Linked DNA regions of Homo sapiens: region 1 is reported to be linked to region 2. The links are microRNA targets in miRTarBase. Many come from high-throughput screens and were not tested one by one. Region 2 holds a microRNA gene; the other region holds the end of a gene's coding sequence.

What was found. Region 2 holds the annotated microRNA hsa-miR-4449 (CGUCCCGGGGCUGCGCGAGGCA, at 2,844-2,865, opposite strand). A microRNA usually pairs through its seed, bases 2 to 8, with sites in the 3' UTR of a target mRNA and lowers its output. Matches are read on the target gene's strand: a 7mer-m8 pairs with bases 2 to 8, a 7mer-A1 pairs with bases 2 to 7 and ends in A, and an 8mer does both.
Region 1: miRTarBase lists C6orf141 as a target of hsa-miR-4449. The part of its 3' UTR that is shown has no 7-base or 8-base seed match.

What each region holds. Positions count from the first base shown.
Region 1 is chr6:49,550,991-49,555,379 of GRCh38, reverse strand. It overlaps C6orf141 (chromosome 6 open reading frame 141), which reads right to left. Exons shown (of 1, transcript NM_001145652.2): 1 at 3,285-4,389. The coding sequence ends at 3,853. Among named protein-coding and RNA genes, the nearest start is that of C6orf141, 2.5 kb to the right of the region's middle. RefSeq lists enhancers at 3,392-3,911, 3,928-3,997.
Region 2 is chr4:52,711,196-52,715,584 of GRCh38, reverse strand. MIR4449 (microRNA 4449) reads right to left here and starts at 2,903; the gene lies at 2,838-2,903. DANCR (differentiation antagonizing non-protein coding RNA) reads right to left here and starts at 3,191. Exons shown (of 5, transcript NR_145129.1): 1 at 3,058-3,191; 2 at 2,626-2,761; 3 at 2,043-2,091; 4 at 1,347-1,386. It overlaps SNORA26 (small nucleolar RNA, H/ACA box 26), which reads right to left and starts at 2,336; the gene lies at 2,215-2,336. RefSeq lists an enhancer at 2,508-2,557 and silencers at 2,808-3,377, 2,552-3,385.

The DNA.
Region 1 (4,389 bases), not on the chromosome of region 2:
TATCTTCTTTTTCTTCATAATATTTTCCCAATTTTTATGCAGTGTATACAACTGTTTCTTTTAATAAAAAGTTTTTTTCTTTTTCAAAGCAAAGAGCCACATCAAGTTTTATCACCAAGCACTGGTAACATCCAACAAAAATAAGCAGTAAGTCAAATGTAATGATTCCCAAAAGGAGATCATGGTTGTAAACAAAGAGTTTTAAGAGAGGATAACACTTGCCTGATCCTGGGGGTTATGCGATTCTGACATTTATCTTATGGTCACTGGAGTGGCTTCTGGAAGTCTTTGATGCGGTTCATCCACCTAACACAATTTTAGATAATCATGTTTTTCAGAGGAGTAGAGGTAAGATCAAAGAGCCAAGATCCAGTCATTCTCAGAGATTTCTTAGTATTGAGGATGCCCAAGTTTCACTTTGGATGCACTCCCAGGACATTTGTAAACGGGATAAGATTTCTCAGGCTCTTCAAATAACAGGGTTCTGCTTGGATCAGGAACACCTGTGAAGCAAATTCAACAGTATTTGGACTTACTACTTTTTGTTTCCAATGAAAAGGAACTCTATATTAAATGAAATCTATAAACATGTTCTAGGCAGTTAATAGGGAAGTTGAGTAAGCACTTTAAAAATAAATTTTCATTGCTTGAAACAGTGAGAAAAGGAAAAAAAAAATCACTTAAAATTAACTCAAACAGGCCGGGCATGGTGGCTCAGGCCTGTAATCCCACCACTTTGGGAGGCCGAGGCGGGCGCATCACAAGGTCAAGGAGATCGAGATCATCCTGGCTAACACGGTGAAACCCCGTCTCTACTAAAAATACAAAAAAACTAGCCAGGCATGGTGGCGGGCGCATGTAGTCCCAGCTACTCAGGAGGCTGAGGCAGGAGAATGGTGTGAACATGGGAGGCGGAGCTTGGAGTGAGCAGAGATCGTGCCACTGCACTCCAGCCTGGGCGACAGAGCAAGACTCTGTCTCAAAAACAAAACAAAATTAACTCAAACATATTTGGTTTAAAGGAGTTAAGCTAACTTGACTAAATACGTTTTTGGCTGAAAGACAAAATGAAAACAAATTGTGTCTATTCTGCTTTTCTAGACAACAGGGCATCAGATTTAAAATCCCAGAGGGAAAACAAACTAACCTGACAGGTCAAAGAAAGTATTCAAAGCTCCCATCTGCCCAGAACTAGGAGGTATGTAAACTCTTTTCAGTGACTGTTAAGGATAGTGTACCTTAGTCCTTTGAGCTTTACCATGAGTCCCTACAGAAGATGTGAAGGTCATTTCTAAAGAATTTAAGAAATATACTTACTGATCCATTAAAGGTTAGGAAAAGCTAGAAATAAGTCCTTTCTTTCAGGAGTAGAGAAGAGTCTTATTAAAAACCACCGGCTTGACTTTCATTAGCTTTCTTGTGTTATACAATTTCTGCTTTTTGTTACTAAACAAAAGACTAAAGCCTAGTTAGGATGAAAAGTGAACTAAACAATAACCGTGCTAATAATAAAAAATGTAACTAACTTTGAGGATTTATTGTATGACAGGCAGGGTTCTAAGTATTTTCATTTAACTTAACCCTAAAAAAAAAAAACCCTCTATGAAGTTGATACTATTTATTGTCCCCACTTAACAAATCAGGATACAGAGGCACACAGAGATAAGGCAACTTGCCCAAGGACACAAGTTAATAAAGAGGTAGAGCCAGTTTTGAACCCAAGCAGCTGAACGCCAGAAATTGCCTCCAGAGAAGGCAGCTGAGTGATGCTACTTACCATTTTTGGTTATTGTGAAAGAGACTTTTTTTGTTCTCTATATTCAATGATTAGTCACCTGGGACATGTGATGATTCAACCAAATTAATAAGCTCAGGTCTGAAACTTACATGCCAAGTAAGTTAATCTCCCACTGGAGTCAGGGAGGGTTGTTAAGGAAAAGAGATTCATTTTAAGGGATGAATCTTTTCTACCTGTCAAGCAATTTTGAACACAGATGAGCTCAGATGCTGAATTCCTCTCCCAAGTGAGGGTCTCACAGGCCTAAGAACTGCTAGTGATGATTCTCCAGCCAAGAGGCCTTGCAGAATTCAGGAACATTAAGGTGATTCTAGTACTTCTCATAAACATGAGTTAGAAAACCTAAGATATTGGCCAGGCATGGTGGCTCATACCTGTAATCCCAGCACTTTGGGAGGCGGAGGCAGGAGGATCACCTGAGGTTGGGAGTTCAAGACCAGCCTGGCCAACATGGAGAAACCCCATCTCTACTAAAAATACAGAATTAGCCGGGGTGATGGCACATGCCTGTAATCCCAGCTACTGAGGAGGCTGAGGTAGGAGCATCGCTTGAACCCTGGAGGTAGAGGTTGTGGTGAGCCAAGATCGTGCCGTTGCACTGCAGTCTGGGCAACAAGAGAGAAACTCTGTCTCAAAAAAAAGAAAAAAATAGAAAAAGAAAGAAAACCTAGGATATCCTCAGGCATCTTTTGACCCCTAAGTAAGGGTCAAATAAATCCTCTAAAGGCTGCCCCAAACCTTTAGGAGGGAGATTATCACATTCTTCATCCACTTAGTAAGCATATGCAATTACTAGCTGTGTGACTTAGACATGCTACAAGACCTCTAGGCCTAGGTTGGCTCATGAGTAAAACAGGGGCATCTTATCTATCTGGCCTGCCAGGAGGCAAGAGGTAGATCAGATGATCTTTTGAGAACACTTCAAGCTCTAAACTAAAAATGAAGGCAAAAGGGAAGACTGGGGAAGGAGGCACTTTTCAACTATTTGCTCATCAAAAGCCAGAGTCCTACCTGCTTTGTTAATTCTTGCAGTAAATACTCCTTCAGGTGGTAAAGTCAAGCAGTTCACCTGGAGAGGGCTGCTTTGCTCCTCACAGAGCTTCAACCAGGCCAACTACTAAAGAGTTAATTCACATAGTATTTAATAATAAAGAGGAACAAACAAAATAAGAAAAATTAGTTGTTTCAGTATTACCAGAGGAGATTTTTTTGAACTACACAAGGAGAATGGTATCTTCAATCTATTCTTGACTACAAGTCTCATTAATGAAGAACTATGGAAAAGAATAAGACATGCATTCATTTTATGGCAAACTACATATTGCTATCTACCTTTAGTTCAGAACATTTACATGCAGTATTTTTAATATTAAAATTAAAATGTATGATAAATGCATGTTTACAGGACTAAATTAGCTATTGTTTGCAGTAAAGCCTTTGTAAATGGAATTTCACGTTGAAATCTTAGTCTTCTGTCCCCAACTCCTTCTTTCCCTAGCTCCTCTCGTTTTCTTTCTAACACTGAAATGTGGGGGAGAAAAATGAAAAGTGCACATCAGAAGAGAGTCACTTGCTGCTTTGGTTTTACTTTCCCATTTCTTTTTACTTTCTGTTTTTGGCTTTTAAAACAAGCCTCTTCTCCACCCACTCCCACCCTCTTTGCAGAGAGCAGACTTCAAACTTCACTTCTGTTTCTAGGTCCTAAAGAGAAACAAGAGGGGGGCGGGGAACAGAAAAGAGATCAATTGAGAGTTATTCCAAAATGCAAATTAACAACAGGTTTTCTCATTTCAAAACTCCCACATTCTGCCAATCTGAAAATATCTTTTCTCCACCTCTTCTGAATGACTTAGGTCCCCAGACAGCGAAGGAATTCAAGCCACAAAGGAGGTATTATGCTGCTTACAGTTCTTAATCTGCCTCCCCGAAGCGCTGCACCAGCCTCTCAAAAGGTTCCTTCTGTAGGTTAATTGCAGGTTGGAGCTCCCAGAATAGCATTTTCTTTTAAGGATGATCGCTCATCCACCATCCCGGAACATTTCTCGAGCTACTCATTAGAGTTTAATTTCCTCGAGCCAAGTCCCTGGAGACGGTGAAACCCTCCTCCCCGCGGCGTGGACGCGGGATGCCCCTGTTCGTGCCTGGAGAGCCCGGGATTCAGCAGGGCCCCAGCGTTCCCCAGGCTGTCCCTCTCTACTGCTGCGAAAAGTGAGCGCGGTCACGAAGTGCTCCTCAGTCCTCGTGGTCATGCGACCCTTGGCCCAGGAGGTCTGCAACACTTCTTGTGTTACCTGATAATCCTCCACCCGCACAAGCACGTATTTGGGTGGGTCTGCTGCGTCCCGCGGCGGGGCTACACGCCTGCCAGAAATTCGCTTTTGTCGTTGAAAGACAGAAGGGTAGTTGGGCTCCTCGCCGTGGTCCTCTCCACCCGCATGAGGAAGGTCCTCTGCACCGGCCACCTCTTCCCGTGCAGGGTCCCCTCGAGTCCCTAACCACCTCTCTGGGTGCAGGAGAAAGAGCACTTTCTCTCTGACCCAGGACTCACGGTCCAATTCCTCCCCGGCCCGAGGTCCGAGGGCCCGATCTGC
Region 2 (4,389 bases):
AACATTCAGAGCCCCGCAGGCCAGAGCACGTTGCCATTTTACCATAGTTTGAAAATAACCAACTTTCCACTACTACAGACATAAAGTCCTCCGCTCCTTAAGGGCACTTCTCTACAGCTTCACTGCTTCTCCAAACCTTTAAACACAACTATCCTCAGGGCCTTTGCACTAGTTTTCCCTCTGCCTAGAATGCTCTTCCCTCAACTATAGATAAGGCCATGGCATCTCCCTCAGCTCTTTCATGTTGAGTGAGGCCTCCCTTGCCGGCCATGTTAAGTCATCTCCCTTTCCTTACCCCCTTAGCAATTATAGCCAGCTAACACATTAGTTGAATGTATTTTTTGTACTAGTCTGTTCTCACATTGCTATAAAGAACTGAGACTGGGTAATTTATAAAGAAAAGGTTTGTCTCATGGTTCAGCAGGCTGCACAGGGAGCATGGCTGCTGAGGCTTCAGGAAACTTACAATCATGGGGTATGTCTAACAGGAAGCACATGGCCAGAGTAGGAGGAAGGGGAGGTGCCACACTTTTAATCTAAACTCTGCCATTCTTCTGCCTCTGCCTTGAGATAACATGTGCACAATTGCATAACCTTTATTTTTATTAATTTTTCTTTTCAGGCTGGAGCACGGTGACAAGATCATGGCTCAGTGCAGTCTCAACCTCTTGGGCTCAAGCAATCCTTCTGCCTCATTTTTTGTAGAGACGAGGTCTTACTATGTTGCCCAAGATAGTCTTAACTCCTGACCTCAAGTGATCCCCCTGCCTTGGCCTTCCCAAGTGCTGGGATTACAGGCATGAGCCACTGCCCCAGCCACACTACACATCTAAACAACCAGATCTCATGAGAACTCACTATCACAAGGAACAGCAAGAGGGAAATCCACCCTTTTCATCCAATCACGTCCCACCAGGCCCCTCCTCTAACATCGGGATTACAATTCAACATTATCCAAACTTGTGAGCAATTACCTAAATTTATGAGGCTAGACTTTACAATATGGAACATAAAAGTTTAGATAAAAAGGTAAGAACAATGCTATGAATTAAGAATGACTCCAAGATAAATATTAATACTTGCTACATAGACACACACAAAAAAACAGAATATGCTGACAGATACTCCTTCTGTGCCAAATTTTGTGAACCTTCTTAGGCTCAATGCAATGAAATAATATGAAGAGTTTATATTCTTAACAGCTCGACTGTGGTCCTTTCCTAGTTTGGTTGAAATAATTCTTAACTGTTACACCAGGACACCAAATCTCAAGAGACAAGTGACTTTCCAGAAGTCACATTGCCTAAAAGTTATACATGTGAAGCCTCTCATTCAGAGATACTCACAGGTGATGAAACTTGAGTTATCACTAATCCATTTCTTTACCTGTGAAATGGGAGAATAGAATCTGTAAGGTTAGCCGAGAGAAAAGACAAGAGACCCAAGGTCAGGCCAAGTAAGTTTATTAACCTGCCAGGCTTCTCCACCAGTCGGAGGTGGCAGCCCTGAGCTTACAAAATGAGGGGTTTATATGGGGGAGAGAGACCCTGGGGTTGTTAGTCAATTAACTTTACCACATATAATCTCATGACCGGCTTACAATATATTATCTTGTGAAAATAGGAATTTACAAGGGGGTGTAATCCACGTTTCTCATGACCTCCCCCGTGCCACCCAGAGGGCTTCGGTGTAGCAAGTCTGGTGACCTTGCTATAGCGCCTAGATAACGGTTCAGGAATGCAGCTGCAGAGTATTCAGGGTAAGGGTCAGCTGCATTGAGTTAGCGGGGGCGGAGTGGTCCTGGGGCAGCCTGTCCCTAACAGAATCCACCTCCGAGTTGTGACAATTAAATGAAAAGGTTGAAAAGGTGAACATGAAGCACCTGCTACACTGCCCTGTTGCCACCAGCATTGTCACTGCTCTAGCTCCTGTGGCACTGCACGGACACGTGGTTGCTACAAGTTAGTACGCATATTTGGCCTTATTAGAGGCACTTTCCTATTGTAACTGAAGGGATAGTTGGCTTAAGTCAATTGAAATACCAGCAACAGGACATTCCAGCTTCAATGGCTTGTGCCTGTAGTTGTCAACCTATAGAAAGAAAAGTTTTAAAATGACGTTTTAACCAAAGAAAACTGAAATGTATTGCTTGTTCTATAAACTGTAAAGAAAATCACAAAGGCGCTCAAGTTGTAACGAAACTTTTTCTGGTTCAGTTGTGACTCCAGACAGGATCCAAAGAGGAGCTTTCCAGTCTCTTCTCTGGGTTTTATGGAGACTTACTTTACCCTTCTGTGTTAGCCTCTTAAAGCACTGGGTCAACCTTAAAAGGGCACAGGAAAGGGTGCTTTGTGATTTTTTTTCTTTGATTTTTACAGGGTTCACTACTATTTTCCGCGTTGCTCTCAATACCTCGTGGATCTCTGCTTCTCTAAGTCTGAAACCACACTAGAAACACAGCTGTTTTGTTTGGTGAGCCCCTACATGGATGTTTCCTTCCAGTTAAGGGGAGCCGGATTCGGACCTTGGCGACAAACAGACGCCGGGGAACCCTCCGGTCCCACTGGCCACGTGCTCCAGGCTGACTCATTCCTTCCCCCACCCCGCTCAAGGCTAGGAACATACCTGCGCTAAGAACTGAGGCAGCTGCACTTCCGCAGACGTAAGAGACGAACTCCTGGAGCTCAAGGTCGGCTGGGGTTGGGTTCCTGTCCCGCACGCGTGGCCCGCCCGAAACCCGCTACATAGTGGCGCGTCAGCCCTGGGGAAGCAAAGCGCAAAATTGTTACGGTGCCCAGACCTGCGCCGGGAACCTCCGGCTGTTCCGCTGGGCGCGGCGCCTGTGCCTCGCGCAGCCCCGGGACGGGCACCGCCGCCCGCCCCCCGGGCCGCCGAGGGCTGCTCTACCCCTCCGTTCTGGCCGCCGGGAGCAGAGGAGCTCGAGGCGGGCAAAGCTCGTGGGGACACCGGGCGAGCCCAGCCCCTGATCGGACCCACGGGCCGGCCGGGCGCCCTCCCCGCGGGAGACCGAAAGCCGAAGACTGGAGATGCACTCACCGCGCAACTCCAGCTGACAAAGAGGCCTGCGACCTGCGACGGGCGCACAAACCAGAGAGGCGGCGCGGGGCGGGGAGGGAAGCAGGAGGGTCGCGAGGCCCGCAGCCAATCCCGGGAAGACTCTGGGCAAGGGCGGGGCGCGCAGCCGATCCCCTGGAGAGGTCGGGTAGCTCAGCCAATCCCGGGAAGATCCTGAGCGGGGCGGGGTGGAGGGCCGCGGCACGCACAGCCAATCCCGGATGGGGCGGGACGGGCCCGGCCATTGGCTGTCGGTGTCCGGGGCCGGCCTAGGTGTGGCTCATGCAGTAGCACGGGGATAAGCCATGTCTGCGCGCGGAGCATCCTTCTCTGAATTAGATTTTTCAGGCTACCTACCAATCCCCGGCGTTGGTGATTTTGGTGCTCTTGGGCCCTAGACCCTTCCTCGGGTGCCCTTCTGGAGAGGGCATCGAGGTTACTCCAGGGTTGGCCTAAGGCCCTGGGATTCCCTTTCTTAAAGCCACACTAATCCGGTGTGTGTTCATCATCTGTGTCCGCCTAAACCGTAAGCTTAAAGAGAAGCCACGACCATGTCTTGTTCAACAAGCTCACTCCCGTGGCCTCTCCTAAAGCTAGAAGGACTACCTCCTTTCCTCATGCTCCCTCTTTATTCATTTACAGAGTCCAATAAGTAGACCATAATCAGCTGGAGGGTAGGAGTTGGGGAGGTTGAGAAGGCAACCATAGCAATCTCAAGGTAACAGGCTCAAACTTGGCAAACAAATAAGTAGAAGAAAATTGGAGTATATGCTAAAAGGAGAACTTCTATTGCTGTTTCACGTACTTACCATCTGCTAACAAATCTAATCCTCAAAATATATTTAATCATCTCCAAATTATAGATGGGGAAATAATTATGTTATGTAACTTGCCCAAAGTCACAGAGCAGCTAGCCAGTGGTAGATCCAGGATTTGAACTCAAGCAGCCTGAAGGCAGAGCCCCTCAAACAACATGCTACCTAGCCTTTCCCCAGGTGTTGGGGGTGGAGCAGGAAGGGAAACCAAAAAATAGCCTACACTTGGTTAACAGATCAAGACAGGCAGCTCTGGTGGGGTGTGGCTTTGTAAACAGAAAGAACAACTCGTCCAGAGCCCCAAGATAAAACAGGAAAGGGCTTTACCTGTTTAAGGACTCCCAGAAATGGAACTTAAGGAGCAGAGTGGCCTGAGATGAGAATGGCTTGGGGCCAGACCATGCAGGAAACCCTGGAAGAGTTTTTTTGTTTTGTTTTGTTTTTGAGATGGAGTCTCGCTCTGTTGCCCAGACTGGAGTATAGTGGCACGATCTTGGCT